Linked DNA regions of Homo sapiens. The protein of the gene in region 1 purifies or fractionates together with the protein of each later gene. This does not show direct contact. Each region holds a gene or a part of one and is shown on either strand. Other genes may lie near its edges. The genes, in order: ZNF7 and SOX13.

The links.
Region 2: the proteins of ZNF7 (region 1) and SOX13 purify together in Homo sapiens (affinity purification with mass spectrometry; one large-scale study listed by BioGRID and IntAct). This does not show direct contact.

What each region holds. Positions count from the first base shown.
Region 1 is NC_000008.11:144,840,916-144,844,272, forward strand, and holds the end of ZNF7 (zinc finger protein 7), read left to right. Parts: exon of another isoform or gene 1-439; coding exon 440-2,253; 3' UTR 2,254-2,857; downstream 2,858-3,357.
Region 2 is NC_000001.11:204,117,597-204,121,618, reverse strand, and holds part of SOX13 (transcription factor SOX-13), read right to left. Parts: coding exon 3,912-4,022; intron 1-3,911. UniProt on the Homo sapiens protein: Transcription factor that binds to DNA at the consensus sequence 5'-AACAAT-3'. Binds to the proximal promoter region of the myelin protein MPZ gene, and may thereby be involved in the differentiation of oligodendroglia in the developing spinal tube.

The DNA.
Region 1 (3,357 bases):
TCCTCATCACAATCCATGCTCTCCATTCAGAACTCAGACCCTGTACTGTTTCCTCGCCAGCTCGGATGCTGGAGCCCCTGACCCCGCAGCCCAATCCGTGGTAGCTTCCCACCCTTCTGGTCTTGCTTTGTCTCCTTTGCCTCTGCATGGACTGTGCCCCACACCAGTGCCTGTAGGATGGACCTCTCTGCTCACAGAACCCAGCCCTGCCCCAGCAATGAACATTCATTGCTATCGAATGAGTGAACAAGGTAAAAAGTATGAAACCACTTTTGAGAACTGTCAAAGGCTCTGCCTTCTCTTGCACGTTTCCACCTGGGGCCTCACAGTGCTCAGTGCAACTATCCTGGGAGCCTTGAGCCCTGGCCCCCGCATTTGTAGTCTTATCATTTCTCTGAGCACAGGGCCTAAGGAACGTCTTTGTTCCTGTTTATTTCAGATTCTACGATTAGGACTGAAAATGAGCAGGCCTGTGAGGACATGGACATCCTAAAATCAGAATCCTATGGGACAGTGGTCAGAATCTCCCCACAGGACTTTCCTCAGAATCCTGGCTTTGGAGACGTTTCTGATTCTGAGGTCTGGTTAGACAGTCATCTGGGCAGTCCCGGGCTGAAAGTGACAGGCTTTACCTTCCAAAATAACTGTTTGAATGAGGAGACTGTGGTTCCCAAGACCTTCACCAAGGACGCACCCCAGGGATGTAAGGAGCTGGGAAGCAGCGGCCTGGATTGTCAGCCTCTTGAAAGTCAGGGAGAGAGTGCGGAAGGGATGTCCCAGAGATGCGAGGAGTGTGGCAAAGGCATCAGAGCCACTTCAGATATCGCTCTGCATTGGGAAATTAATACACAGAAAATTAGCAGATGTCAAGAATGCCAAAAAAAGTTATCTGACTGCTTGCAGGGGAAACATACAAATAACTGCCATGGAGAGAAGCCGTACGAATGTGCAGAGTGTGGGAAAGTCTTCAGGCTCTGCTCGCAGCTTAATCAGCATCAGAGAATCCACACGGGAGAGAAACCCTTTAAATGCACTGAGTGTGGAAAAGCCTTCCGCCTGAGCTCAAAACTTATTCAGCATCAAAGAATCCACACTGGGGAGAAGCCCTACAGATGTGAGGAATGTGGAAAAGCTTTTGGTCAGAGCTCAAGCCTCATCCACCATCAGAGAATCCACACAGGAGAGAGGCCCTATGGTTGTCGTGAGTGTGGGAAAGCCTTCAGCCAGCAGTCGCAGCTGGTTAGACACCAGAGAACTCACACTGGGGAGAGGCCCTACCCTTGCAAGGAGTGTGGGAAGGCCTTCAGCCAGAGCTCCACCCTAGCCCAGCATCAAAGGATGCATACTGGGGAGAAAGCTCAAATTCTAAAAGCCTCAGACAGTCCAAGCCTTGTTGCACATCAGAGAATTCACGCTGTAGAGAAACCATTTAAGTGTGATGAGTGTGGGAAAGCTTTTAGGTGGATCTCTCGCCTGAGTCAGCATCAGCTGATTCACACTGGAGAGAAGCCTTATAAATGCAACAAGTGTACAAAAGCCTTTGGTTGTAGTTCACGGCTTATTCGCCATCAGAGAACTCACACTGGAGAAAAACCATTTAAATGTGATGAGTGTGGCAAAGGCTTTGTTCAGGGCTCACACCTTATTCAGCATCAGCGAATCCACACTGGAGAGAAACCCTATGTGTGTAATGACTGTGGAAAAGCCTTCAGTCAGAGTTCCAGCCTTATTTACCATCAGAGAATCCATAAAGGAGAGAAGCCCTACGAATGCCTCCAATGCGGAAAAGCCTTCAGTATGAGCACACAGCTTACAATACATCAAAGGGTTCACACTGGAGAGAGGCCCTATAAATGTAATGAATGTGGGAAAGCCTTCAGTCAAAACTCAACCCTTTTCCAACACCAGATAATTCATGCAGGGGTGAAGCCCTATGAGTGCAGTGAGTGTGGAAAAGCCTTCAGCCGGAGCTCATATCTTATTGAACACCAGAGAATACACACTAGGGCCCAGTGGTTTTACGAATATGGGAATGCCCTGGAAGGGTCCACCTTTGTGAGCCGTAAAAAGGTTAATACTATAAAGAAACTGCATCAGTGTGAAGACTGTGAGAAGATATTTAGGTGGCGTTCACACCTAATTATACACCAGAGAATTCACACCGGGGAGAAGCCTTATAAATGCAATGACTGTGGCAAAGCTTTTAATCGTAGCTCAAGGCTTACCCAGCATCAAAAAATTCACATGGGATAGACCACTTACATATAAATGTGTATATATGTGAATAAACCTATAGCCTTAACTTACTTATTTTATATGGAATCGTTTATACTGACAAACATGTAGAATGTTGGTAAAGGTTCAGAATTGCTCTCAAGAATATCCAACTTCAGGCCGAGTGTGGTGGCTTATGCCTGTCATCCCAGCACTTTGGGAGGCCAAGGCGGGCACATCACGAGGTCAGGAGGTTGAGACCATCCTGGGTAACAGGTGAAACCCCATCTCTACTAAAAATACAAAAATTTAGCTGGGCGTGGTGGCAGGCACCTGTGGTCCCAGCTGCTCGGGAGGCTGAGGCAGGAGAATGGCATCAGCCCAGGAGGCGGAGCTTGCAGTGAGCTGAGATCGCGCCACTGCACTCCAGCCTGGGTGACAGAGTGAGACTCCCTCTCAAAAAAAAAAAAAAAAAAAAAAATCCAACTTCATACAAAATGTATGTTTATTTCCTGAAATGTTTGACCTTAACCTGTTCAATAAAGCCTGTGTCCCTCAAAATCAGGGTGCAGTCTGCAGTTTTGAGTTGACAGGTCCCTGTGAATGAGGAAGCAGCACAAGGAGGGCTCTACGAGCGCTGCTAGACTGAGTAGGTTAAAATAATTTACCTAAACTCTTTTCCCTTAAGTATCAGTGGCTCACACTGGCTTCAACAATACGGAAATGCATTAGCTCATGTTGGAGGAGGTCCAGGAGTGCCTAGAATTCCAACTTCAAATTAGGTCCTTGTCTTAGAACTTAACCCAGCCACCCAGGACCAGAGGGCCCAGCCCTATCCCCTTCCTCAGAGAGGCAGGCTGGGCTAGCAGGTACACGCCATCATTACTGGTGTGGTTGGCATTTATGGAGCACATACCAGTGCCAGGCACAGAAGCAAGGTGTCACAGCAAGGTTCTGAGGTCACACTTGTGTCCCAGGGGCTTGCTGTGTGACCTAGGACATCATTGCCCTCCCTGAAACTCAGAGCCTTATTTGTGTATCTGAAAACATGCACTGTGAGAGGGTACTGAGAGGAAACAATGTAGAGAAACATGCCTTACTGGGCCTGTCAGAGAACGAGCACTCAAGCAAATGCAAGTACCA
Region 2 (4,022 bases), on another chromosome or scaffold:
TGAGAGAGGGTAAAACACCTATTCATCCAACAGCTACTTTTATTTTGTACCTACTGGGCACAGGGCACAAAAGCGGCTGCCTGTTGTGTAGAACGTCTCATATGTATCATCTGACAATAATACATGGTATGTGATATATAACAGGGGCTGAATACATCATCATCCCATTTTACAGAAAAAGAAATGAAAACCTTAGAAGTCAAATGGGGCTGGGTGTGGTGGCTCATGCCTAGCACTTTGGGAGGCTGAGGCAGAAAGACTGCTTGAGGCCAAGAGTTCAAGACCAATCTGGTCAACATAGCAAGACCCCCATCTCTATTATTAAGAATTGAAGCCAGGCGTGGTGGCTTACGCCTGTAATCCCAGCACTTTGGGAGGACAAGGTGGGTGGATCACAAGGTCAGGAGTTCGAGACCACCCTGACCAGCATGACCAACATGGTGAAACCCCATCTCCACTAAAAATACAAAAATTAGCCGGGTGCGGTGGCACGCGCCTGTAATCCCAGATATTCAGGAGGCTGAGGCAGGAGAATCGCTTGAACCCAGGAGGCGGAGGTTGCAGTGAGTCGAGATTGCACCACTGCACTCCAACCTGGGGGACAGAGCGAGACTCTGTTTCAAAAAAAAAAAAAAAGAATTTAAAATTTTCAAAACTAAAAAAATAAAAATAAGAAGAAAAATGGGTTGTCCACAGAGCTATGAAATGGCAGCATCAGGATTTGAACCCAGGGCCTCTAGACTCCACAGCCTTTCCTTCTTCTCGACATGGCACTCCTGCCTACCCTACCTCACTCCCAGGCCCAGCATCCAGGTGGAGAGATAGGCCACATGTAGAAATCATGAAGTGCATGGCAGGTGGTGATGAGGGCCACACAGACAGAGCACCAGCAAACTCTGCTCCAGCTGGGGTAACTAGAGCAGGCTCCCTGTGGGAGCCGAGGTGTGCGCTAGTGCCTGCAGGATGGGCAGGATTTGGGCAAGTAGAGATGGAGTGGTGGGGTGTGTGAGGGTGAGCTGTGGGGAATGAGGCAGGCCATGGGGGCCAGGTTGGCCCCGAGGCCCATGAAGGCCGAGGTCAGGAGTACGGAGCCCATGCTGTGGGTACAGAGCACCATGTAAGGCTTGTGAGCTGGGGAGGGCCACTGTTTACAGTCAGCTTTTGCAAGGGACCTTGCTTGCTTAATTTCTGGAGCAAACAAAGTGGGAGGCAGCCATGCCAGTCCCGGGCTCCCACAGCTTATTTACTGCCTTACCTGCCCAGAAAGCAGTTGGGGGTCCTATCCCCGACCAGATCACTGTCCCCTTGCCTCCACAGCTCTCCTCCACACTCATGGGGAGTTGCAATGGTTTGGAATTGCCCTGTCCTCCACCTTCAACCTTCTCCACTCCCCATTCCCCCAGCTAACTGGAAACTTCCACATTGGGCCTGTCTTAGTCTACTCAGGCTGTTGAAACAAAGTGCCATAAACTGGACAGCTTACAGACCTCAGAAATTCATGCCTCAGTTCTGAAGGGGAATTTGCTTCAGAATGAATTATACCTTGAGTCTTACCTATAACTGATTTAGGTGAGATTTATTATTATTTTTGTCTGTTTTGCGACAGGGCCTCACTCTGTATGTCTCGCTTTGTCTCCCAGGAGGGTGTGCAGTGGTACAGACACAGCTCACTACAGCCTTGTCCTCCTGGGCTCACGCAATCCTCCTGCCTCAGCCTCCCAAGTAGCTGGGACCACAGGCACAGGCCACCATGCCAGGCTTTTTTTTTTTTTTTGTAGAGACAGGGTCTCACTTTGTTGCCCAGGCTGGTCTTGAACTCCTGGCCTCAAGCAATCCTCCTGCCTTAGCCTCCCAAAGTGCTGGGATCACAGACATGACCACTGTGCCTGGCCTAGGTGAGATTAGATGAGGCTCTGGACTTGAAACTTTTGAACTGATGCTGGAACAAGTTAAGATTTGGGAGCCTATTGGGATGGAATGAATATATTTTGCATATGACAAGAAAATGAACTGGGGAGAGTCTGGGGCAGAATGCTATGGTCTGAATGTGCCTCCCCCACCCCAATTCCTATGTTGAAATCTAATTCCCAATGTGATAGACTTAGGAGGTGGGACCTTTGGGAGGTGCCTGGGTCATGAGGGTGGAGCCCTCAGGAATGAGATTAGAGGCCTGAGGGAGCCCGTTTACCCCTTTCACCACCTGAGGACACAGTGAGAGACGCCATCTGTGAACCAGAAAGTCAGCCCTCACCAGACACCAAATATGCTGGCTTTATGATCTTGGAATTCACAGCCCCCAGAACTGTATGTGAGGAATAACATCTGTTGTTTATGAGCCACACGGTCCATGGTGTCTTTCTACAGCCCCTGAATGGATGAAGATGGGGCCTGGCTTTCTCAGTCCTTTGTGTTTCCCCTTCACACCACCCTACAGTGCCCGGCACAAACCAGGCAGGAGCAGAGAGCCAGTGGGGCTGAGCAGTCTACCCAAGCCCATGGCCTATAGGCCTCAGGGAATTTCCTCTTCTCTCTCTCTTTCTCGCCTGTGGAACAGGGAGGATGATCTAGCACGTGTTGCCTTTAAAGCTGTCCACACTCCTGGGGTAATTATGGGCAGCATCTCTGCCCTGTCCCCATAACTCTCTGTCACTGCCCTAGTTCAGGTATCATCCCCTGCTGCTAGAATCACCTAGCAGGTCCTGCTTCTGGCCAGTCTCCCCTCCACTCCCCACCCCTCAAAGCCAGAACGACACACTCACTTCTCAAATGTTCACATGCACCCCACAGCCTACAAAATAAATCCCAGACTCCATGCTCCCTCCCCAACTGCCCTGTACCGTCAGGTCCCACACCCTTGTCTGACACATGGCCATTCTGCTGAATTTCAGTGATGGGGTAGAAGGCCAGAGTGACATGGTGTAGGCAGGGACAAGAGTGTGAAGGTAGGAATCGTGGCTGTTAGAATTTGGGAGATGTTGGCTCACGCCTGTAATCCCAGCATTTTGGGAGGCTGAGGCGGGAGGATCACTTGCGGTCAGGAGACCAGCCTGGGCAACGCGGCGAAATTTCGTCTCTACTAAAAATACAAAAATTAGCCAGGTATGGTGGTGTGCACCTGCAATTCCAGCTACTCAGGAGGCTGAGGCAGGAGAATCGCTTGAACATGGGAGGTGGAGGCTGCAGCAGTGAGCTGAGATTACACCACTGCACTCCAGAGCCCAGGTGACAGAACAAGTAAGACTCTGTCTCAAAACACAAAACACAAACAAACAAAAAAGAATTTGGGAGATTTGTAAAACCCAGTTAATATTCCAGATTTTTTTTTTTTTTTTGAAATGGAGTCTCGCTCTGTCACCTAGGCTGGAGTGCAGTGGCATGATCTCAGCTCACTGCAACCTCCACCTCCCAGGTTCAAGCGATTCTCCTGCCTCAGTCTTCTGAGTAGCTGGGACTACAGGCATGCACCACCACACCCAGCTAATTTTTGTATTTTTAGTAAAGATGGGGTTTCACCATGTTGGCCAGGCTGGCCTCGAATTCCTGACCTCAAGTGATCCACCCACTTCGGCCTCCCAAAGTGCTGGGATTACATGCGTGAGCCACCACACCTGGCAATATTCCAGATATTAATACTCTGACACAGTAAATGTACTAGAGTTGGAGAGACTAGACCTGGATTGCTACATCATTTTACATCTGGAAAGGGCTTTATGGTTTTTCATTCTCCCAGTGAAGTTCAGAGAAATTCAGCAAGATTCAGAAAAAGAGGATGATTCTTCTACCAGACAGATCCAAAACTGAGGCCCAGAAAGTCCACATAGCAAATTAATGGATGAGAGTGGCTCCAGGGCGCTTTCCCTGACCTCAGGACAGGCTGGCCGCAGTGGTGGAACCTCCCTTCTCACACTCACCTGGTTTGCAGGGAATGGGCTGAATGGGTAAGGCCAGCTGGGAGTCAGGGGTGACAGGCAGAGGTTGGTGGCTTGGGGGGAAGGCTGGGATCATGACATAAGGCATGTTAA